Linked DNA regions of Homo sapiens: all the other regions are linked to region 1. The links come from fine-mapping of genetic effects on gene expression. A gene starts in region 1. Each other region holds a variant in brackets. All regions are shown on one strand. Distances are between the middles of the regions.

Region 1 (8,073 bases):
GAAGTGTATACATCTCCAAGAATATCAGAAACTGATTCTGTTGACTTTTAAATGTTGCTTAAAATGACTCATATTTGTCTTTCTCCCAGATGATATGTGAATTTCATGGGCTAGGACTACATTACATTACTTCTTCTCCTCTCTATTTCCTTTTCTCTCTCACACACACATGCGGCCTCAGCACAATGTATTTGTTGGATAAATGGCTAGAGGTTTGCAAAAACAAGAGGTTTCCTGTGGAGGGTTACTACTGGTGGGGAGATTACCTGTGAAATCAACTGATGTGGCCTGGTTTTCTGAGGAAGAACAGGCTAAGAAAAGCCAATCGGCTGGGCGTGGTGGCTCATGCCTGTAATCCCAGCATTTTGGGAGGCCGAGGTGGGTGGATCACCAGGTCAGGAGATTGAGACCATCTGCCTAACACGGTGAAACCCCGTCTCTACTAAAAATACAAAAAATTAGCCAGGTGTGGTGGTGGGCACCTGTAGTCCCAGCTACTCGGGAGGCTGAGGCAGGAGAATGGCGTGAACCCAGGAGACGGAGCTTGCAGTGAGCCGAGATTGCGCTACTGCACTCCAGCCTGGGTGACAGAGTGAGACTCCGTCTCAAAAAATAATGAAAAAAAGAAAAAAAAAGAAAAGCCAATCCAGGAAGTTGAGTCAAAGAAAATCAAACTCCTGCGCTCTTAAAATCTGAGAAACAATGTCAAGAAAGTGACCAGAAACTCCAACCCACCTGGGATTCTGCTGTCAGGGATCCAAGGGTCACTCTACTCTCTAAACTTTCGCCCTGGGTCTCATCAGCATCCTGAGACAGCAGAGCTGGGGAAGGAAAAGAGCCATGAGGTTTGCATCTCCCCAAATCACCCAAACAGAGAAACTGCCTACAGACCCACTCATTGTGGCTTCTCCCCAAAAACGTTCACAAACAGGGACATTTAGACGGACTCAAGAGCAGCTCAAAGCCTCCTTAATAAGGAGGACCTGCTGCAAGCTGCTTTCACCATTAATATTTCCCAATGGTCTTAGTAATCTCTCAGGCCAATCTTTTGTTCAAAAATCCTCAAAGGTTTCCCCACTGACATGAAAGAAAAATGCAAACACTTCAATATAGATTTCTTTTTTGTTATTTTTTAATTATTATTATGATTTTGAGACAGAGTATTGCTCTGTCACCCAGGTTGGAGGGCAGTGGCATAATCTTGGTTCACTGCAACTTCCACCTCCCAGGTTCAAGAGATTCTCGTGCCTCAGCCTCCCGAGTAGCTGGGATTACAGGCGTGTGACACCACGCCCAACTAATCAACATAGATTTCAAGATCCTCCACAACCAGTCCATGGCTTCTCCAAGTATTATCTCCTCTAAACATTATCCTTCATCCACTGGACACACCTACCCACACAATCCTGGTACCATTCTTTGAATACATGTGGATAGTACCCCACCCAAATCCTATTTGGTGAAAAACTGCGATACCCTTCAGGCCCAGTTCAAGTAAAGTTTTCCCAGACACCCTTAATGAGAAGAAAGTTTATTCTCTCCTATGCTTCCCAAAAGCTTGGTTTTTATATCTATTCTAGTATCTATCTCAGGTTGCTTTTTATAATTAATTATCTCTCTCAGTTGAGTATTAATGAGGGTATGGATAGAAACTGTACCTTGCTCATTTTTCTCCATCTGCTAAAGTGCTACACATAACACACTGCCAGCTTTCTAGAATTTAAGTAACACTGGCTGAATTGAGGTATTAAAAATATGCACTACAGGCCAGGCCCGGTGGCTCAAGCCTGTAATCCCAGCACTTTGGGAGGCTGAGGTGGGTGGATCACGAGGTCAGGAGTTGGAGACCAGCCTGGCCAAGATAGTAAAACACCGTCTCTACTAAAAATACAAAAATTAGCTGGGCGTGGTGGCAGGCGCCTGTAATCCCAGCTACTTGGGAGGCTGAGGCAGGAGAATCACTTGAACCCGGGAGGCAGAGGTTGCAATAAGCCAAGATCGAGCCATTGAACTCCGGCTTGGGTGACAGGAAAAAAAAAAAAAAAAAACCACTAGGAATTAAGGCACATGAATAACTGTCTTTGTATTTTATTCCAACTTTTTATCATGAATATTGAACATCTATACATCCACATCTAGATTCAACAATTGTTAATATTTACCATATTTGCTTTACCTATCTACATTTTTTCTGAAGCACTTCAAAGTCGTCTGCATCATAATACTTTATCCCTAAATATTTCAAATAAGGATCTTCTCTTGTACAACCACAGTACTATTTATTAAATCTATGAAAATTAACAATAATTCCATAGTATCATCTAAATATTCAGTCCATATTCAGATTTCCTCAACTGTTTCCTCAACTTTTATTCTGGATTTTTTCCAAACCAGGAGTTAATCAAGGCTCACACATTCAAAGTGGTTGTTACCTCTAGTCTCTTTTACTCTAGAATAAGTACTTCCCCTTTCTTCATGATGTTGTCTTTTTAAGATACAAGAACAGTCTGACTGTATCCTCAATGTGAGGTTTATCTCATTTCTCCATCCCCTGTATTTTCTGTAAACCAGCAGTTCAGTCTTTAAACTTAATTTAGGATCATGTTCAACATTTTTGGTAGGAATACCTTGTAGGTGGTACCAGGTGCTTTATATTACAGTATCTGCAAAGTATAAAATGCCCGGCTATCCCATTACTGAGACATTTGATTAAAACTGTGACCACCACACCTCACTATTGGAAAATTATGTTCATTCCTTGCCATTTAGTAAGTAATTTGAGGGGATAATACTTTGATATCATGTGAGTATCTGTTCCCCATTAACCTTTCAATTATTTTATTTACGGTAAAAGATTCTATCATTCTTTCTACATTTATTTATTTATTTATTTATTTTTGAGACAAGGTCTTGCTCTGTCACCCAGCCTGGAGTGCAGTGGCGCCATCTCAGCTCACTGAAACCTCCCCTTTCCTAGTTCAAGCGATTCTCGTGCCTCAACCTCCCGAGTAGCTGGGATTACAGGCATGTGCCACCACGCCCAGCTAATTTTTGTATTTTTAGCAGAGATGGGGTTTCATCATGTTGGCCAGGCTGGTCTCAAACTGCTGACCTCAAACTCCTGGTCTCAAGCAATCCGCCCACCTTGGCTTCCCAAATTGCTGGGATTACAGGCATGAGCCACCACACCTGGCCTCTTTCTACCTTCATTATTGGCACGCATTTTCTGTAAAAAGCTTTCCCTCACCAACTGAAGAGGATCTAAAAGGCAAGGTAAATGCACATTCATTCCCATAATAACCTATTTTTCAAAGTAAGGAATCAGTGTATTAATTACCTCCAATGTTTGCAAATGAATTCCCCCCCCCCCACGTCTTTCTCTATTTTAAGTGTCAAGGTGATCATGTGGAATTTTACTTATTCAAGGTGTTACCATCAGTTTGGATACTTAAGCTTTCCCAAATCTGTCGAGTGAGAGACCCTTAAACCTGGCCTCTTTTGACACATATCCATAGTCTTTAAGCTCTTCCTTGCTTTCTAGCACAAGTTACTCCAGGCTCACCTGGTACTTCCCCTGCTGCTTCTCTTTCTGACCTAGCCACCAAGTTCCTGTGTGACCCTGGGCAGGCCTCCCATTTGATTTACATTTCCCCACTGTTAGAATAAGAAAAATCAGGTTAAGTCCATCCTGCCCCACATGGCCATGGGAAAGATGAAAATAAATAATATACATAACCATGACACTGAAATACTGGTCCTAGGCTGAAAAGACCACCACTACTTAGGAAAACCCCAGACTAGGAGCCACAATCAACAACTCCGGAAACCCTCCACCCACTCGTCTCCCTAAGAGATGCTTCCACTCAAGTGACTCATTCCTTCTCACACTAGAGGGGACTGCTTTTCCTCCCTCCCACCCATCAGTTTATTCTTACCTTCTGCTTTAAACATCTTAGTCACATCCTCCCACAGGGCCACCCGCTCCGTGGCCGCCTTTGGATGACGCAACTTCACCCAGGTGCTGGCCTCGGTGGGCAGGGTGATCAGGAGCTGCTGCAGCATGACGGCGTCCGCACTCCTTTCTGAGGACCCTCTGTCTTAGCCCATAGGGCTTGTCCACCTCTGATGAGGAAATTGCTGGAAGCTCTGACAGGAGGCTTCCCAATTGTACCGATCTCCTTAATCGCCGACTCCTACTCCTCAATGTCCTCTCTCAGGAACCCAGGGAACATACAGTATCAAAATCCGAGATCTGGACTTGTGTCTATCATCGGCTCTCAGGGCGTATCTCCCAACTTGAGCTCCATCTGTCTCCTTGGCCAGCAGCTGGAGGCGCCAAGTATTTACTCTCAGCAGCCCCTGCAGATGCTGAGCAGAAGACATTAGAATCAGCAAAGGACTAAGGAGGCTCAGTCATAGGGCAGAACGCTAGAACATATATGGATCACTGTAAAATGTTTCCAAAAGATACACGGAGACGGTGGGCAGACACAGCCCACAAAATTCAAAGCACCGCGCACATGTCAGGAAGCACAAAGAGACGAATACAACCCAATTCTTTGTTTGGGGCAGTAATTATGTGTAAAGTAGCCGGGGATTTGGAATCCCAGCTCTTTCACTAGTCGGCTGTAGCAAACCGCGAAACCGCTAGACCCCGCCTCCTCCTCCCCAAATGAGAGGCTAAGTCCTCCCCACAAAGCAAAACGCCCCCGGCCCTAGCCTCCCAGCCTTTGTCTGAGCACGACTCCGGGGCTGCGGAGAGCACCGCGCGCGACAGGGTGGCCGCGGGCGGAACTCGCGCTTCCCGGCTCGCCCAGCTCCCCAAGCCCGGGACAGCCACCCGCTCACCCTCTCCCCGCTGGGCCGGCACGCCCCCGCCTTCCCACCGCTGCAGCCGGGTTCCGGCACTGCGCGGCCAAGCTCCCACGTAGCGCTGCGGCGGGCAGTCGGGGCCCAGTGCGCCTGCGCAGCGGCTGGCTAGAGCATGGTTCCCAGCGTCCTCCCGGGGAGCCGCTCCGCCAGCGCAGACGCCCCCACCGGTGCGCGCCGGGTTGGCTGCGTTCAGGGGCTCCCAGTATCCGATCCCTGCGAGCATCATCAGCCTGGCTCCTGCGGGAGGAGATGGAGCCTGCGTTCTTGGGCCCCAGACTCTGATGAAGAACAACCATCTTTCCTCCGCTGGGAAAATGCACGTGAACGTTAGGGTGAGCCTTTGAAACCCGTGACAAAAGGGAGCCATCGGCATCACGTTTTTTGGTGAAACGACACTGGTGTAAAATAATCCATAGCACTTTCCCTAAATATTATGTACATGCCAGTTATTTATTCTCAGCAGACAGTTGAATGGATTCCGGTATATTGTTAAAAGAATACCACAACAGTTTTCTCTTCTAGTATTCAATAAAAGTTCTCATGTTTATTGCTTACCTTGTATTTCTGAAATGCCAGAAAATACACAAAAACAAAAAAATTATTGCCTGTAATTTCAGCAAGCAGCGGTAACCTTGCTAACAGTTGGTGTACAACCTTTCCTGCACACACACAACGTATTTCATGCATTGTTATATATTTTCCACAAAAGCGATTATACTGTAATGCTGTTTTATTGCTGAGTTTTCTCCCTCCAACAAAATTTGAGTACATCACTCCAAATACATTTCTACATCAACAGTTTACAAAAACAACAAATGAGGAAATAGAATACAATTATAGTACTTGCTAGCTGTTATGAACCGAATGTTTGGATTCCCCAAAATTTATCTTGAAGCCCTAACCTCCATTGTATTTGGAGAGTATTTAGAGATAAGGCCTTTATGGAAGTAATTAAGGTTAGAATATAGTCCTAGTCAGAAACGAACCCAACTCGACCTTACTTGGGGCTTCTAGTCTCCACACTGAGAAAATAAATTTCCGGTTTTTTGTTTGTTTGTTTGTTTGTTTTTTTGAGATGGAGTCTCGCACTGTCCGCAGGGCTGGACTGCAGTGGCGTGACCTCGGTTCACTGCAACCTTCGCCTCCTGGCTTAAAGCGATTCTCCTGCCTCAGCCTCCCAAGTGGCTAGGATTACAGGCGCCCGCCACGACGCCCAGCTAATTTTTTGTATTTTTAGTACAGACGGGGTTCCACTATGTTGGCCAGGCTGGTCTCAAACTCCTGACCTCGGTGTCTGCCCGCCTCGGCCTCCCAAAGTGCTGGGATTACAGGCATGAGCCACTGCGCCCGGCCAGATATCCGTGGTTTAAGCCACCCAGTCAATGGTATTTTGTTACAGCAGCCCAAGCTGATGAATACACTAGCATATAATAGTTACAGAATATGAGGCTCTGTCCTAAGTGCCTTTCATATTTTAACTTATTTTGTCATCACAGAAACCACTGGAAGTAAGTACTATTATTATTCCCACTTTACAGATAAGAAAACTGAGATTTAGAGAAGTTGAATAACTTGCCAAGATCATGTGGCTTACAAGTGGTGAACACAGGCAGTCTATGTTCCTATCTGCTACTCAACAAAAATACAGCATGAAATACAATAAAATGTTAATGGTAGAATCTAAGTAGTGGTATAGGGATGCCGTAATGTAAAATTCTTTCAATTTTTCTGTATATGTATATGTTTTCATAATAAAATATCAGAAAAATACAGCTAAGAATAAACAAGAATTATGCAGGAAATTATAAATAAAACTCCAAATTTTTTGTTTAAATGGTGAGAATAGTGATACAACACATTCACGAGTTGAAATAGAACATTCTAAGTATGTCACTCTTCCTCCAGTTCACATAAACTGTGATGCATCCCAATCAAAATTTCAACTTTTTCGGCCGGACATGGTGGCTCACACCTGTAATCCCAGCACTTTAGGAGGCCAAGGCGGGTGGATCACCTGAGCTCAGGAGTTCGAGACCAGCGTGGTCAACATGGCGAAACCTCATCTCTACTAAAAATACAAAAATTAGTTGGGTGTGGTGGTGTGTGTCTGTAATCCCAGCTACTCAGGAGGCTGAGGCAAAAGAATCGCTTGAACCCAAGAGGTGGAGGTTGTAGGGAGCCAAGATCATGCCACTGCATTCCAGCCTGGGTGACAGAGCAAGACTCCATCTCAAAAAAAAAAAGAAAATCAACTTTTCTTTTTACTAAACTAAATGATTCTAAAGTTTAGCTAGTATGGCAAGTGTTCCAGAATGGCCAATAATGTTTTCCAACAATAATGAAGGCAGACTTGCCCTACCAGATATTACCTTGTATTATGGAGGCAAAATAATCAAAATAAAACTAGTGCCAAAATATACTCGGAAATCAGTGAGATGAAATTGGAAACTCAGAAACAGACTTGACACTTTATTTAAATTTAGTATATTGTAAAGCTGGCGTTTCAAAGCAGCTGGGTAATGATGGATTATTCAACAAATATCATTAGGACAACTAGTTAGCCATTTGGGGAACAGTATGAGTCTTCACTGGCTGACAACAAAATACCATAGACTGGGTGGCTTAACCAACAGAAATTAATTTTCTTATAGTTCTGGAGGCTGGGAAGTCCAAGATCAAGGGGTGAGCAAGGTAGGTTTCCTTCTGAGGCCTTTTCTCTTGGCTTGTAGGCAGCCACCATCTCCTTGTATGCTCACAAGACCTCTTCTTGTGTGCTTGAGGAGAGTGAGCTCTCTGATGTCTCTTCTTTTAAGAACACTAATCCTAACAGATCAGGGCCCCACCCCTGTGACCTCATTTAAACTTATTACTTCTATAAAGGCCTCATCTCCAAATACAGTCACTTTAGGGGTTAGGGCTTCGACATACTCGTTTGTGGCAGAATACAAACACTCAGCCCATAGCAAGAACAAATCAAGTTGGGTTCCTGCTGTACATGTTACACATCGTATAATTTCAAGAAAGTAAAGTTTTGTTTTCTTTTTCACTTTTTAATTTTTTTAATTACCCCGTATCCTAGTCAAAGTAAACTTTTGTTTTAAAGTAAAAGCACAACTGTTAACGTGTTCACATAAAGGTGATTCTAGCCATAGTTTTGGGATAAGAAACTATTCTATACATAGGTTTGTGATTAAGGCCCTA
Region 2 (8,073 bases), 39 kb before region 1:
CTCCCCACTCTGGCAGCAGCAGGAGACATTCGTTCAGAAAATACAGTTTGAACTAAGAATACACACAAGAACATTATGCTGTCTTTTATTGAAACTTGTGTGTGTGTATATATATATATTTCTCTTTCTATAGTTATTAATATGTTCATGGAAGTATTACTTATACAAAGGAGACTTGTAAGAAACCCAGATTGCTATGCTGTTACTGCTGCTAGGTTCTAGGAAAATACCCTTTAACCTTTAAGATTTTTACTTGATAAATTTGTTGCACCATTACTAATATTTCAACTGACAGGTCTTTATGTATTCCTGAAAGGTTTAATTTCTTATAAGATTTTTTTTAGCCAACACAGATGGATCATTAGCAATTCAAAATGTCAAATTCTAAATGACAACAGGCAATAATAATGTCTAATAATATCTATGCTCTGCAGGTCCCTGATTCTGGTCTTGAATAGCGGAGGAGGAAAAGAAGATGATGGGGGAAAAGAAAAGAAGCCATTTATGCATCCCTCCCTAATTCAGTATCCGAGCATGAGGGAGTGTCAAGCTAGTGGGGAAGAAGAGAGGGTTTAGTTTTGAATGAAGTTGGGAGTTTTTATTATTGCACTGAACTAAATAGGCATTTTACTAAAGTCAAGACTGTTCTTGTTATTTAAAGGAACGGGATCATCAATGGAACTCTTTGAGATTTCATCCAGAGGCTGGGAAAGAACATTCATGGTAGCTTTTATTATTATTTTCATTATTGTAAGTTGAGGAAGAGAAAACCCAGGAAAATATACAAAGAGTGATTGGAATTAATAAGAGTAAAACAAGGTGGCTGTATAAAAGGTCAATATTCAAAATCAATTTTGTTATTACTTACTAGCAACATAATTTTTTTTTTTTTTTTTTGAGACAGAGTTTCACTCTTGTTGCCCAGGCTGGAGTGCAACGGCGTGATCTTGGCTCACTGCAACCTCCACCTCCCGGGTTCAAGCGATTCTCCTGCCTCAGCCTCCCGAGTAGCTGGGATTACAGGCATGCACCGCCACACCTGGCTAATTTTGTATTTTTAGTACAGATGGAGTTTCACCATGTTGGTCAGGCTGGTCTCGAACTCCTGACCTCAGGTGATCTGCCCGCCTCAGCATCCCAAAATGCTGGGATTATAGGCATGAGCCACCGCACCTGGCCAGCAACATAATCTTTCTTTAAAAATATACCTGTTCACGACTGAGGCTCAGGGAAAAGAAAAGGAAAAAAAATACCATCTACAGTAGCAACAAAATATAAGATTTTCAGAATCAATCTAACAAAAAATGTACAATATGTACAGGAGAAAATCCTGAAATGTTACTGAAAAAAATTAGGAAATATCAATAAATGGAGTGCTATATCATATTCCTGGAAGGATTCAATAGCATAACAATGTTAACTCCCCCAAAATTGATCTAGAAATTCAATTCTATTCCAATCAAAATGCCAGCAGAGTATTTGTGGGTGTGATTTGATGCTCTGATTATATAATTCAAATAGAACAACAAGGATCCAAGAATAACCAGAACAACTTTAAAGAACAAGGTGGGTGAACTACCTCTACCACATATTAAGTCTCATTATGAGATACAGTTTTTAAGACAGCCTGGCATTAGAGTAAGGACAGAAAAACAAAAGAATAAAACAACATAAAGAGAGAAACACGACAGAAAAAGAATATACAAAACAGAAACAGACCCAAACATATAAAGAAACTTGACAGGTGACAGAGCAGCATTAACTATTCCTGGACTGATTATCCATGTGGAAAAAGTTAATCAGATTTCCACCTCATACATACAAATTTATTTATATAAAATAAATTCCAGATGAATTAAACCTAAATGTGGAAAGCAAAACTTTGAAAATACAGGAATATGTAAAAACATATATGTATGATCCACATATATGATAAAATGGAGGATAGCAGGGCACAGCAGCATGCACCTGTAGTCCTGCCTCAGCCTCTTTAGTAGGTGAGGTAGCTGAGGCAGAAGAATCACTTGAGCCCAGGAATTCGAGGCCAGCTTGGGCAACATAGCAAGACCCAGTCTCTAAAAACAATTTAAAAAGTTTACAAAAAAGAATAATAAGGCATAAAAGGGTTTCTTAAAAAGCACAAACAATAAAGAAAATCCTGATAAATTCAGTAACATTAAATTTAGAAACTCACGTCTAACAAAAGACACTAATTTTGAAAAGTCAAAGATGGGCCACTGACCTAGAGTAAACATTTGCAAAACATAAAGCTATCAAGGATTATTATCTAGAATGAATATATGTATAATTATACTAGAATGAATATATATATATATACACACACACACACACACACACATACACACACACATTTTTTTCTACCAATCAATAAGAAAAAAAGATTATAGAAACATTGGCAAGGGATATAAACAGGTAATTAACAGAAGAGCCTGGCATTAGAGTAAGGACAGAAGAAGAGATGGATGGATGGTCAATGAACATGAGAAATATACTTCCTTTCACTGGTAATCAGGAAAATGAAAGAAACAAGATACCATAACCCAGTGAATTTACAAAAATCTTAAAGTTTGACAATAACAAATGTTGACAAAGATGCTGAGTTATGGAAACTCTCAAACCCTGTTAATGGGAGAATAACCTGGTGTAACTGCTTTGAAGAGCAAATTGGTAATACCTAGCAAAATGAAAGTGCATATATTCTACAACCCAACAATTTTGCTTCTACCAGCTATCTTAGAGAAACACTTGCATTATGTATACAAGAAGTTATGTACACAAAGGTTTGCTGTAGCATCTTTGTAACTCCCAAATTTGGAAACAATGTAAATGTCTATCAACAGGAAAATGAATAAGAACATTGTGGTTTATTAACTCAATGGATTGAATGAACTAGAATAACATACTGAGGAATATCACCAGTGTTGAATGAGAAAAGCAAAAGGAAGAAGTATATATACCATTTATTTAAAGAAAGAGAACATGCAAAACAATGCTATATATTGTTTAGTATGTATACACTGATATATAGACTGCTTTTACTACATTATACATGTAATAAAAGCACGAAGACATGGGAATAATATTTCAATGCAGAGTGCTTATTTCAAAAGGTGTAAGGGGGACAGTGGAGCTTCAACTGTGTTTCATTTCTTAGTCTAGGTGGAAGCTACACAGAAATGTGTTATAATGTTTTCTATGCCTTTCTGAGTGTCTAAAATATTTCAGAATAAAAAGCAAAGTTTGAGGAGATTGTTAGGGACCCCGACATTTGGTTGAGAAGGAATCCTTTGGTAATTTCTCTTACAGGAGTTTTCATAAGTAGCTGTTACAAAAAAGATACATAAGTTAAAAAGAGAATGAGAATCGAAGCTGGAATTGTAAAATGAACATTGGCAAGAAGTAAAAATGGAGTGCAGGAAAATTAAAGATTTGTAGAATGCAATGGGAGTCTTGGAAAGAGATTGGTTTTCTGTGAAAATACCACATACATTTGACTGCTTAGAGAAAGCTTTAGATTGGCAGCCCTTAGGATACTGGAGAAAGGGAAAATCCAGCTCAACCTTAATGAGGACAAGACTGCTCTTTCCTCCAACTCCAGGGGACTTTTGCAAGGGCTCAGTGAAGGAAAGGGGTAAGGAAGGGACGGGTGATATTAGTTTAGTGGAGGCTCTGTCCAGTGGTCTGAGCCCTCCCCACAGCCGAGGCTTTGAGCACTCTGACCTACATATTAAAATTCCATCTGCCTTGGTGATTTGGTTTGAATATTTATCCCCTCCAAATCTCATGTTGAAATGTGATCCCCAGTGTTGCAGGTGGGGCCTGGTGGGAAGTGTTGGGTCATGGGGGTGGATCACTCATGAATGAGTGTCCTCCCCATGGTAATGAGTTCTCACTCTGAGTTCACATGAGATCTGGTTGTTTAAAAAGCCTGGCACCAGCCTGGCGCAGTGGCTCACACCTGAAATCCCAGCACCTTGGAAGGCCGAGGTGGGCAGATCACAAGGTCGAGATCAAGACCATCCTGGCCAACATGGTGAAACCCTGTCTCTACTAAAAATACAAAAATTAGCTGAGCGTGGTGGCGCATAACTGTAGTCCCAGCTACTCGGGAGGCTGAGGCAGGAGAATCGCTTGAACTCCAGAGGC[G/A]GAGGTTGCAGTGAGCCAAGATTGCGCCACTGCACTCCAGCCTGGCGACAGTGCGAGACTCTGTCTCAAAAAAAAAAAAAAAAAAAAAAGAAAAAGAAAAAGAGCCTGGCACCTCCTCCTTCACTCTCATGCTCCAGCTCCCACCATGTGATATGCCTTTCACCATGATTGTAAGTTTCCTGAGGCCCTCACCAGGAGCAGATGCCAGTGCCATGCTTCCTGTACAGCCTGCAGAATCATTAGCCAATTAAACTTCTTTTCTTTATAAATTATGAAGTTTCAGGTATTCCTTTATAGCAACACAAAAACAGACTAACACACTTGGTCTCACCTGAACTGGGATCTCCTGGGCCTTCTTTCTCTGCCATCCATGGCTCTTCTCCTTTCTCTAACTGGGATATCACACTAGGTTTGGAAAGTTGATATCCTGCTTATGTAGTAAAAAAAACAGTGTGAATGTTTATGCTGATGTCTAAGAACCATCCTCAGAATTTTGAGTCTTCTGGTATTCAGGGTCTCCACAAGTGGAAAGGGGTGGGTCTTTCTATCCTAACTATGTGTAGTAAAGTTGTTCCCCAAGAAAGTCAAATTGGATATGCCCTCACTTGGTTTTCAAAGGGAATAAGACATCTTTAATACAGAACCCAAATCAAGCCTCAAGGAATCTACACATCAATAATTTAAAATAATGACTCTCCTGTAATGGGTGGGTTTCTGGATGCATGGATAGCCAAGTCTTACCCACTGACACCAAGTTGCTGTAGTTCTCCAGCATCACCTCTCGGTATAGATTCTGGTGAGCAGGAGCCAGCTGCCCCCACTCTTCCTGGGTGAAGTCAATAGATATGTCCTTGAAAGTCAACAATTCCTAGAACATCAAATACATTCATTTTTAGCCGGAGACCACCTCTGTTAAGTTCCAAGGAGTTCTGACAGTATTCTAAATTCTGAGAGATTCTAAACTTACTTTTATCAGGAGCCTTCTCTGGATCTGTTTGGAGATCCTCTGATCTCCAAATCTGATCAACAAAACTGTCTGGAACTGTAGTCTGTCTGGATCTCTAATCTGGAGATTACTATAAATAATGTAATATATAGAAAGACAGATGGTGATACATACCTTAGAAAAAAATTAAGCAGGATAAGAGACATTGGGAGAACCACAGTGAGGGTAGGATGATCTTTTATGTAAAGTGGTTGGGGAAGACTCTCTAAAAGGGTGATGTTTGACCGGAGACATAAATTCAGTAAAGGGAAGAACCACATGGAAATCTGAGAGAAGAGCATCCTGGGCAGGTGCAAAGGACCTAAGGTGACAGTGTCCTTGGCTTGAGGAACAGGAAAGTGAACAGCATGGCTGGAGGTAGGCTGGTTGATGAGAGAGTGGAAAGAAATGAAATCAAGAGAGGTGGAGATGAGGAACAGGGTGGGATAGGGGTTCCCCCACCACCTCACGCACTTATTGTCACAAAGACCTGTGCATTCTTACTGAACTTGAATTCTGAGGCCCTGCTGGAGTTTAATGCAAAAATGAACAAAACTGTCTGGAACTGTAGTCTAATCCCTTCCTAAGCTCAAATGCCAAAAAGATAAAAAGAAAAGCCCTCAGCAATTGTGGCATGGGCTAATCAGAAGTATACTCAATCAAATTAAAGCTGCATGATAGCCAGAGCTCAGCCACAGCTCTAGGAGGAGCCCCTCACCTTAACCACCAGAGAGACGAAAGGGTTTGGAAATAGAACAAATCAAAACACATGAATAAACTATGTGTGTGTGTGTGTGTGTATACATACAAAACACACACATGTATGTATGTATATACACATGCACTCCTGCCTTGGCCCCTCAAAGTGTTCGCATTACAGGCATGAGACACCGTGCCCGGCTTAGAGATCACTTTTTTTTTTTTTTTTTTGAGACAGAGTCTCACCCTGTTGTCCAGGCTGGAGTGCAGTGGTGCGAGCTCAGCTCACTGCCACCTCCCGGGTTCAAGTGATTCTCCTGCCTCAGCCTCCCAGGTAGCTGGTATTACAGGCGCACGCCACCACGCCCAGCTAATTTTTGTATTTTTAGTAGAGACCGGGTTTCACCATGTTGGTCAGACTGGTCTCGAACTCCTGGCCTCAGGTGATTCGCCCACCTCAGCCTCCTGAAGTGCTGGGATTACAGGCGTGAGCCACCGCGCCCGGCCTGAGAGATCACTTTTTACTGTGATATGCAATTTACCGGAGAGATGAAGTGCTAATGCAGAGATGCTTAGCATCACACTGAATTTTAAGTAAATACTTGAAACACCTGAGCGCACTACAATAGCCACAGGAGATAGCTATAAAATTATCATACTAATACACTAGGTGTACTATAGTTTATTTTATGCAGTAGTGATTTAATACTGCATCTTTACATTTGTTTACATTTCTCTCAACTGAGAATGGCACCATGAATAGTCTGTGCACATAAGCTTTGAAAATTTTTAACTTTTTATAATAGATACGTGTATCTCTTATGGTAGTAAATGATAAAATAGACTAGTACCTACATATATTTTATGTATTCATAACATACCTAACTTTTTCTTAATTTTTTTGATACTCCTAGGCTACATGGTCCATCTGCAAGTTTTTTCAAATTGTCACAAATCTCCAAAAAATGTTTCAATATATTTATTGAAAAAAGTCTATATAGAAGTGGACCTGCACAGTTCAAACCTGCGCTGCTCAAGAATCAACTGTAGGCCGGGCGCAGTGGCTCATGCCTGTAATCCCAGCACTTTGGGAGGCTGATGCGGGCGGATCATGAGGTCAAGATATCAAGACCATCCTGGCCAACATGGTGAAACCCTGTCTCTACTAAAAATACAAAAATTAGCTGGGCATGGTGGTGCATGCCTGTAGTCCCAGCTACTCGGAAGGCTGAGGCAGAAGAATCACTTGAACCCGGGAGGCGGAGGTTGCAGTGAGCCGAGATCTCGCCACTGCACTCCAGCCTGGTGACAGAGCAAGACTCCATCTTAAAAAAAAAAAAAAAAAATCAACTGTAAATGAAAATTCTACAAGTGAAAAAGACAATATCTAAAAATTCATTGGATGGGCTTAAAGTAGATTAGACCATGATGAGATAAGATCAGTGAAACTTAAGATGGGTCAATAAATATTATTCAAACTAGAGTACCAAGAGAAAAAAATCTGTGGGATAATATCAAGTGGTCTATTATACATGTAATTAGAATCTCAGGGCTAGGTGGGATGGCTCCTGCCTGTAATCCTAGCACTTTGGAAGGCCAAGGCAGGAGGACTGCTTGAGCTCAAGAGTTTGAGACCAGCCTAGGCAACATAGGAAGACCCTGTCTCTACAAAAAAAAATACAAAAATTAGCCAGGCATGGTGGCGCACACTTGTAGCCCCAGCTGCTCAGGAGGCTGAGGCAGGAGGATCACTTAAGCCTGAGAGGTAGTGGTGGGAGGGAGGGAGGGAGGGAGGAAGAAAGGAGGGAGGGAGGGATGGAGGGAGGGAGGAAGGGAAGGAAGGAAGGAAGGGAGGGAGGGAGGAAAGGAGGGAGGAAGGGAGGAAGGGAAGCAGGGAGGGAGAAAGAGCAATCTCAGAAGAGGGAATAGGTAGAAAAAATATTTGAAAAATAATGGCTGAAGATTTTCCAAACTAATAGGAAAAAAAATCAACCCACAGATCCAAGAAGCTCAGCAAACCCCAAAAAGGATAAACTCAAAAATCACAGCAAGGCACAGTGGCTCATGCCTGTAATCCCAGCACTTTGGGAGGCTATGGTGGCAGATCACTTGAGGTCAGGAGTTTGAGACCAGCCTGGCCAACATGGTGAAACCCCATCTCTACTAAAAATACACAAAATAAAAAATAAAATAAAATAAAATAAGGCGGGTGTGGTAGTTTA
Region 3 (8,073 bases), 33 kb after region 1:
TAGGAAAAGAGGATGGGGGTCAGGGGTGGAGGCTGTGGAAAGGGGAGAGCGAGGGCTGAAGAGAATGGCAGCCATACAGGTGTTTTGTTTTTATTTCCACATCTGAGGACTGAGAGTCTGATTTGCTGCCTGTCCATTTCCGCCACTCATTGACTGTCCATAGTTCATCATGCCATTGGCTCCATAGAAGTTCATCCCAGCCATCTGCTGGGTCATCTGAAAGGGAGAGAGGAGACTTTCAGACCAGGCTGTGGGCATTCCGCCAATTAGTGCAAAAGGCAGGGTGAGAGTCCCTTTCTCTGCCAGGATGGGGAGAATGAGACAAAGGGAAACTCTGTTATGGACAGTAAACCCTGGACCTTAGCAGTCAGATCATTTCAAGGCCACGTACGTGAATGACCTTTTGGGAGTGCAATGCTGACGGAGACTAAAGCTCAGGGAGGGAAAGAAGGCATCCTGGCATCTGGATCTAGTCGACAGAAAATCAGCATGAGTTCCTCTCTTTTTCCTTTCCAGTCCCTCATCCTAAATAGAAGGGGCCTATTGTTAACTTGCCTGGCCAATCCTAAAAGCTGAAAGGAAAGCCCCCTCCCCAGTGCTCCCGCCTCATCTTCAGCACAGCTATTACTGTCAGTGTCAGGGAAAGCGCTTGAGCAGGCTTGCTCGTTTGCACAAGGGGGAAAAAAAGGAACTGGACTGTTCAGAATGAACAAAGGCGGTGGCGGGGCGGGGGCGGGGGAAGACTAATGTGTCTTCAGTGTATAAGAAGGGAAGGAGCTGGGAGAAAACAGTCAGTGGAATAAGGCCTGGGGCAGGATGGGGCGGGGGTCCTTCATGAATCTGATGGAAAGACTGGCCCCTAGCAGTGAACAGAAAAATACTTTATGGAGAAAAATGCCTTGAATTTCCTAAGCCTAGTAAATTTTCTATATAAGTTATTTTTCTTTAGGAGAAACTATTATTTTCTTGTACCAACTTTTAAAGTAAATTTCAAACTGACATAAAAGTTGAAACAATAGTACAATAAAACCCATGTATCTTCTTCCTTAAATTCACCAACTGTTAACATTTGCCATATTTTCTCTCCCTCCCTATAAAAAAACTTACATTTTTTTGATGAGTATCAAAAGTTGCAGATTAAAAAAAAAAAAAAGCTGCAGCTATCACGACATTTCATTCCTAAGTCAGGAGGCACCTCATAAGAATGAACACTTTAACAGAACCACAAAACAATGAACACGCTCAAGAATTTTAACATTAACACCATATTCTAATGTACATGGCATTTCATTTTCAGATCTCTGTAGTCTCCTTTAAGCTAGACCAGTTTCCCTAACACTTCCTTCCATTTCTTCCTGACACTGACATTTTTAAGAACCCAGGACAGTTATTTTGTAGCATACCCCTCAATTTGGATTCATCTCATGTTTTCTCATAATTGGATCGAGGTTCAATATTTTTGGCAAGATTCTATGGAGGTGACACATGTCTTTCTTAGTACAAAATATCAGGAAGCATATGACATTACTTTGTTCCTCTGTCAGTAATTTTATGTTTGATCACTTGGCTGAGGTAGTGACTATATTTCTTTCATTATAATTAATAAATAATCTGAAGGGCATTTCTTTGCAAATGTGTCAATCCTTTGCTCTTTTTACAACTACTGTCATTCTTCTGTAAAGAAGGCTTTTCCTCCCTCCATTCCACACCTGGTTTTTAAAAAATATCACCGTGGACTCATGGTTTTGTTTTGTTTTTTCCATTCAGTGTGTCATAATCCATTACTGTTGTTACTCTTTTTGATGTTCAAATTGTCTCACATTTGGCCAGTCAGAGCCACTGGAAGTTGGCTCATGCGTCCCTCTGACATATTCCCATCAGACTTATAGCATTCCATTACTTATATAAATAAAAACGAAACAATGAAAATAAGTGAATTAAAATCTCCACTATGAAAGCTAGAAAATAACAAAGTAAACCCATAGAAAGCCTACGGAAATTGAGGTAGAAAACGGAAAAATGTAGCACCAATAAATCGAAATCCTGGTTCTTTGAAAAAAATTAATGAGACTGCTAGGCATAACTTTTGATAAATTTGAAAACCTTGGCGAAATGGAAAATCTAGGTAAATACAGTTTTCCAAAATTGACTTCCATAGAAGAAACAGAGAAAAGTATCAAAGATTTGCTACAAAAAAAGCAATAGTGCCCACAAACTTCACATGGGAATTCCACAAAACCTTCAAAGACCAGAGCTACATAAATTATTCTGGACCACAGAGAAACAAAAACATAAAAGTACTTCTTATAAATAAGTATAACCCTGATAAAGATAGCTATACATGCACATGTGCAGTACACATGCACCATACCACCTCTCTGGGGTTCCTTTGCCTGTCTCTTGGTTTTCACATTAAATCACTTTGTATTTCTTTGTACCTAGTGCAAAACTAGTGTTGCTTTGTTAGCCAATTTGAACATCATTTTCTTTTGATAGAAGAGTTGCCTACTGGTATGACTGGTATGTTTGGTCTCAACTCCATCATATTAGATTTTTACTGTGTTTATTGTATTTGCTGCACTTTGTAGTCTGTTTTTAAAAATTCTCAGCTGGGCGCAGTGGCTCATGCCTGTAATCCCAGCACTTTGGGAGGCCAAGGTGGGTGGATCACCTGAGGTCAGGAGTTTGAGACTAGCCTGGCCAACATGGTGAAACCCCGTCTCTACTAAAAAATACAAAAAAAATTAACCGGGTGTGGTGGCGGGTGCCTGTAATCCCAGCTACTCGGGAGGCTGACGCAGAAGAATCACTTGAACCCAGGAGGCGGAGGTTGCAGTGAGCCGAGATTGTGCCACTGCATTCCAGCCTGGGTGACAGAGTGAGACTTTGTCTCAAAAAAAAAAAAAAAAAAGAAAGGAAGAAAATTATCTTGGTATTCAGAACATTTCACGTGTTTGTTCTAGTGATTACCTTCATAGTAATACTTTTTAGCAATGTCCTTGGTCTCCTTTTTCCTTATTCAAGCTTCCGTGATTTGGTTTGTCAGCTTATTGCATCCTTCGATTTCTACTTCTTTCCCATACAATATTTATTATTCAACTTTTCTCCCTCCTCCTTCATTTTCAGTTGTATTTGTTTGTCAGAATATAATGTATATTCTGCAACGCTTGTCACCACCTTTGTTTTAGTCTTAGATTCTCAATTAAACATTCAATTCTCACCATCAGTTCTTTTGCCAAAAATGAAAATGACCCCAGTCATCTCTTAGGTGGATGAAGCTTATCTTCTGTTAGATTCCCCAGGAAAGTCTTGTAAGTGTGATATTCTCTGAGTTCTTGCATATTTATTTTTTACAGCCTTGATACCTGAAGGATAGCTTGGCTGGCTTGGTTGTAAAATACTTGTTGTGTCTTGCATACACTTGAGTGTCTTTAAAATACTACTCTCCTTGTTATTCTTTTTGTATTTTGCTGCTAGGAAGTCTGATGTCAACCTGGGTATTTTTTGTTTGTTCTAAGTAACAGATTTTTGTGGGTAGGAGGTATGGAAAAGGTTGGACCCCTAAACATTTTGAATGTTCTTTAAAGTCTGTAGATTTGCTGGGATATGTTTTAAAGTTGACTGTTCTGGGTCAATTTTCCCAGACACACAGTGGGCTCTTTCCATATTATATCCAAGTCTTTTATTTCTAGAATGTTTTCTGGTGTTAAACACATTAATACTGTCCCATATTTTATTTATTTTGTCTTTATTTCTTTGGGCATCTCCAAATATATGTAAGTTTTCTTTGCCTAACTTCCATATTAATTTCCATCTAATTCTTTTTACTACTTTCTATATTTAGTTTTCATTCTCTTAGCTGTTTCATGCCTTTCCTCAATGCC[G/T]AATATATTTTCAGCTCAATCTATTGTTCTTTAGCTAACTTGTAATTGAGTCTTTATACGAAAATTTTGGCTTTTTCTTCAATTTCTTTTCTGAGTTTAGTAAACTTTCATTTCACAGCATGCAGTTTTTTATCCATTTTGGCTTTAAGTTTTTGAATTTCTGATTTAAGGTGTTTTGTCTTATCTGCAAATGTTTAAGGACATTTAATTCAGATTGGTAGATTGTGTAACAATTTTCTTCTGCTTCATGACTGTTTTTTGAGGGAGAATATTCATTACGTGAAATGTTTTGATTTTCATTTTCTATTTTCTTCCTGTAGTAGTTGTGTACAAATGTCAGCTTCCATGTTTGGTTCATTTTTGTAAGGTCTTATTTTTTCTCAATCAGCAATAATAGGTGTGAAGGTTTGGGGAGGCTTACTAAATTTCTTAGATTAAGAGCACCATCTTTTATTAGTGAAGTGGTTATTTTGGAAGAGGGAAGAAGGTGTATATTTGATTTTGTGATTCTCATTCCCATTTCTCGTGTCTTTCTTTCCTTCACCACCAGTCCTCTAAAGGGTACCTCCTCCTTTTAGGCCATGCCCATCTCCCCGAGAAGCAATGCTTTCCCAAGGTTACTACCTATACTCCTATATATCTGAAGTCTCTTATTTTTGATCCTCCAAGTAAACAGAGTTCTAATCTACCACATCTCAGACCTGTTCTCAGTATGTCTTTGATGAGGGTAGGTCCTTCTCCTTCTGGGGGGTTACTTTATCTGTGGTATTATTGCTAGGCCCCTGCTCCATCTTCTCTTTTTACAGTCTCCTCTGTGATGCTGGCTCCGCTGGATTTGGTGTTTATATGCCCATTGCCATGCCATTTGAACCTTGCAGTATTCTGTCTACCAAATGAGATTGTTGTGAGAATATCTGCATTCATTGTTTGTACAGGGTTTCTTTGTGTGTTTGTTTTTGCTTTTGAGAATGTGTGGAGAGATTCAGATTTAGGCAGTTGGGCTTATTCTACAGGAGCCCAGAACTCCTCAGAAAGTCTGACTTTAGACAGACCTTCTAGGAAAAAAAAAAAAAAAAAAAGCAAACCTAACAATGTCTCTTACATTATCTCATCTACATGGAAAGGATTCAAAGGATAGTGGAGAGGTACAAACCGAGAAAAACTTGAGGAAGGCTCAAAACTCTTGCTGCAAGTAAAATGGGGTAGCTTACCTGAGTAAGGTTCCATTGCAGCTGCTGAGCTGGCTGGACCCCATACACAGTCTGGGGCATAGCTGCCATGCCTGCCATGTAGCCAGCCTGCTGGGTGGTCATCATTCCATTCGGCACACCCATCATTGATGCCTGCATGCCACCCATATAGCCTGCAGGCATGGCCATGGGGGCAACCATCCCAGAAGCTCCTGGCTGAGCAACCATGCCTACTGGTGGAGGCATCATGCTCCCCATTATGCTGTTAGGAGGTGTAACCCCGGGGAAGCTGGGGTAGGCTGTGGGATATGCCATCTGAGCGGGAGCCATGAACATTGCTGCCAAGAAAACACACATACAGGTTGGTTAAAGAGGGAAAAACATAAAGTCAGCCCGAACTCTCCCTGGCTAACCCTTTCCAGCTGGAATTTCTCAGGATTACTCTACTCACAATGCTCTTTACACAGCAAAGTAGTTAGAGTCCCTACGAGGCCTGCTATAGCTTACCAATGGGCTGCTGACCGAGCCATTTTCCCTTTAGGGTCCAGATCCAGACCTTGAGCTAGACTTCACCGAATTGTGACCCCAGACTCCACAGAAGTATGACTCTGAGTTACATTAATTTCCATCTGCTGATACGTTGGTCATGTTCAGGTTTGTTTGGTGTATGACATCCTGGCCCCCAAAGCAACTGTCCTCTGTCACAATAAATAATTCCTGCATGGAAGCCCTCATGTCTCTACCTGGCACATGGCCATGACACCCATGAAATCTACCTTGAGTAGGCATTTGAGGCGTCTGGGATCCATACAGTGAAAGAATGGAGTCTTTAGAGAGCTGTTTCTTGCCTATTTCTTCTGATTTGCTCCCTGGCTCCGGAAACAGGTTCAGATTTTCAGGAACAGAGCCGGCACTCCCTGCAGTTGGCATGGAACCTACAACCTTAGGGCAAAGAGGGCGGGGGGAGAATTGAAATGGTTCTCATGGGGGTCTCTTTAAGGGTCTCCCTTCCCTCTCTGCTGCTCCTAACATCTGCAATAAGAATTCATGGCTCAAGTTAATAGCTTCCTAACATTTTTACCATTCAACTATCTGAACACACCTGATAATTAAGCTCTGTTACAATTCTTTCCTTTCACCAAAACATGTGATTTGGTAGGAACAAACAAACAAAACAACCCACAAATGATGCAGCAGAGGGAACTGAGTTTAGACCCCAGTGTAGCCATTTACTAGTATAACCACAGGCTAGTCACATAACTTTTACAAACTAATGTCTCCACATCTGTAAAATTTCCACTTTGCAGGTTTGTGGTGAAGGAGTGAAATTATTAATGAAATATACAAAATGATATACAAAAACCACCTCACACTGTGCCTGAGACATAGCAGGCGTTTCACGAATGGTAGCCATTAAAGGTTTCAAGTCTTTCCTACCTACAATTTTCTGGCAGTAACTCAGGCCGAGGAGCTAGCCTCAAGTATCAGCCTTCACAGTATCACACACTTTCCAGAGAAGCAACTCAAATGGCCCACCCTTTTTGAGCAGGAGAAAAAAAGGCATGAACAGCAATCTTAGACTGTGACAGAAATGACACAATGTTAAGGGAAGAATGAAGAATCAAGAAAACCAAAGTCCAACTCCACCAAGGAAGCATGACGTGGTTCCATGATTAAGATATCAAAATCACCCATTTCAGAATGTTCTTTAATCCTGAGGAGCCCACAAGACTCACCTTTCTGGAACCGGAAGAAGAAGGGGATGGAACAGAGGCCAACAGATCTAAATCCTTCTCTAGGGTATTGCTGGTCTTACTATTTGCAATGGAGCAGGCCACAGGAGCATCTAGAAAGAGAGATCGAAGTTAAGATGCAGCACTGCTTATTAAGCCCATGCCTTCCTTCTATTCTAGACAAAAAGCAAAGGTGGCCCATAAGCTCATGGACCTAGAAATCTAGACTTCTGGAACCATCTAGCATGGACGGGGCTTCTCAAAAGAGGCTTCACCCCACATTCCCAGAGTGCTCTGGGGAAGCCTGTAGCCCAGCTATCAGGCACAGGGCAGCAGACGCCCAGGCCTGAAGGGTATTTCAGCACCACAGTGGGGGGCTGGCTGGCTCCCTTCTGGCTATTTGAAGGGCAAGGTATGGAGGAGGGTTCATTTTCAGAGAGCAAGGAAAGGTACAGAAATTAGAAGCCTAAGTAGCCAATAACCTCAATCAGCAGAAGCGGATGGAAACAAAGTGCAACCATCAGTGCTGTGAAAGGCAGACAACAGGCTTTCTTTCTGAAAGGGCAGAATCACTAGTTCAGGATTTCAAAGGTTTGGAGAAAAATGACCACAGGCCATCTCAGAAACAGGTTGCATCTGAAAAATGAAAGGAATGGGGGCAGGGAGTGGAGTACAGGGAATTGACATGAGGCTCAAAGGTGCTGTTTAGCAAAACTGCTAACATTTATGGAGGGCTCAGTATGTGCCAGGCATGGGGCTAAGAGCTTTAGAGGCATTATCTCATTTAATCCTTCCAACAACACCTTTGAAGTAGAGACTCATTCTCACTGCACGGATTATGAAAGCAACATTCAGAGGTTAAGTAAACTACCCATGGTCACACAGACAGTAAGTAACACAGAGCGACACTGGCTCCAAAGGCCATGCTCTTAACCACTACACCACACTGTCGCTCTGAAAAGTGTCACAGTAAACACTTCCTTAGAGCAACTGCTCAGATGTAAAACAGATCAGGAAGAATGTGAGAGAACAGTCTTGGCAATGAAGACAAAACTGGAGAACCCCATCTCTACCTATCTTCCAGGGTCACTGAGAATTTATCAAAATTTGTAAGAACATGGAAGCTGAAAAGTCCAACTCTTACCAAGGCCCAACAAATCCATGACAGGCGCTGTGGATTTCGGGGAGCTTTTCCGAGGTAGCTGTGGGTCTTCTTTTTTCTGTGGCTAAGGTGAAAATATGTTATAGCAAGAAATAAGCAGGTGG

The links. PIP is the estimated chance that this variant, and not a neighbour inherited with it, causes the effect.
Region 2: its variant is the best candidate, but not a certain one, in a credible set for the expression of ZFP69B in lung (TOPMed, PIP 0.75).
Region 3: its variant is the best candidate, but not a certain one, in a credible set for the expression of ZFP69B in whole blood (TOPMed, PIP 0.52).

The regions. Positions count from the first base shown.
Region 1 is chr1:40,446,951-40,455,023 of GRCh38, reverse strand. ZFP69B (ZFP69 zinc finger protein B) reads right to left here and starts at 4,548. Exons shown (of 5, transcript NM_023070.3): 1 at 3,936-4,548; 2 at 736-821. The coding sequence starts at 4,062. It overlaps ZFP69B-DT (ZFP69B divergent transcript), which reads left to right and starts at 4,985. Exons shown (of 5, transcript NR_198977.1): 1 at 4,985-5,204. RefSeq lists an enhancer at 3,255-4,454 and a silencer at 4,670-4,929.
Region 2 is chr1:40,486,050-40,494,122 of GRCh38, reverse strand. ZFP69 (ZFP69 zinc finger protein) reads right to left here. Exons shown (of 6, transcript NM_001320179.2): 4 at 4,909-5,035; 5 at 4,499-4,594. EXO5-DT (EXO5 divergent transcript) reads left to right here. Exons shown (of 2, transcript NR_187365.1): 2 at 435-3,098. Among named protein-coding and RNA genes, the nearest start is that of ZFP69, 13 kb to the right of the region's middle. The variant G/A (reference allele first, on the strand shown) is at 4,168.
Region 3 is chr1:40,414,119-40,422,191 of GRCh38, reverse strand. SMAP2 (small ArfGAP2) reads right to left here. Exons shown (of 10, transcript NM_022733.3): 6 at 7,952-8,033; 7 at 6,811-6,920; 8 at 5,851-6,016; 9 at 5,096-5,412; 10 at 1-216. The coding sequence ends at 91. Among named protein-coding and RNA genes, the nearest start is that of ZFP69B-DT, 32 kb to the left of the region's middle. The variant G/T (reference allele first, on the strand shown) is at 3,885.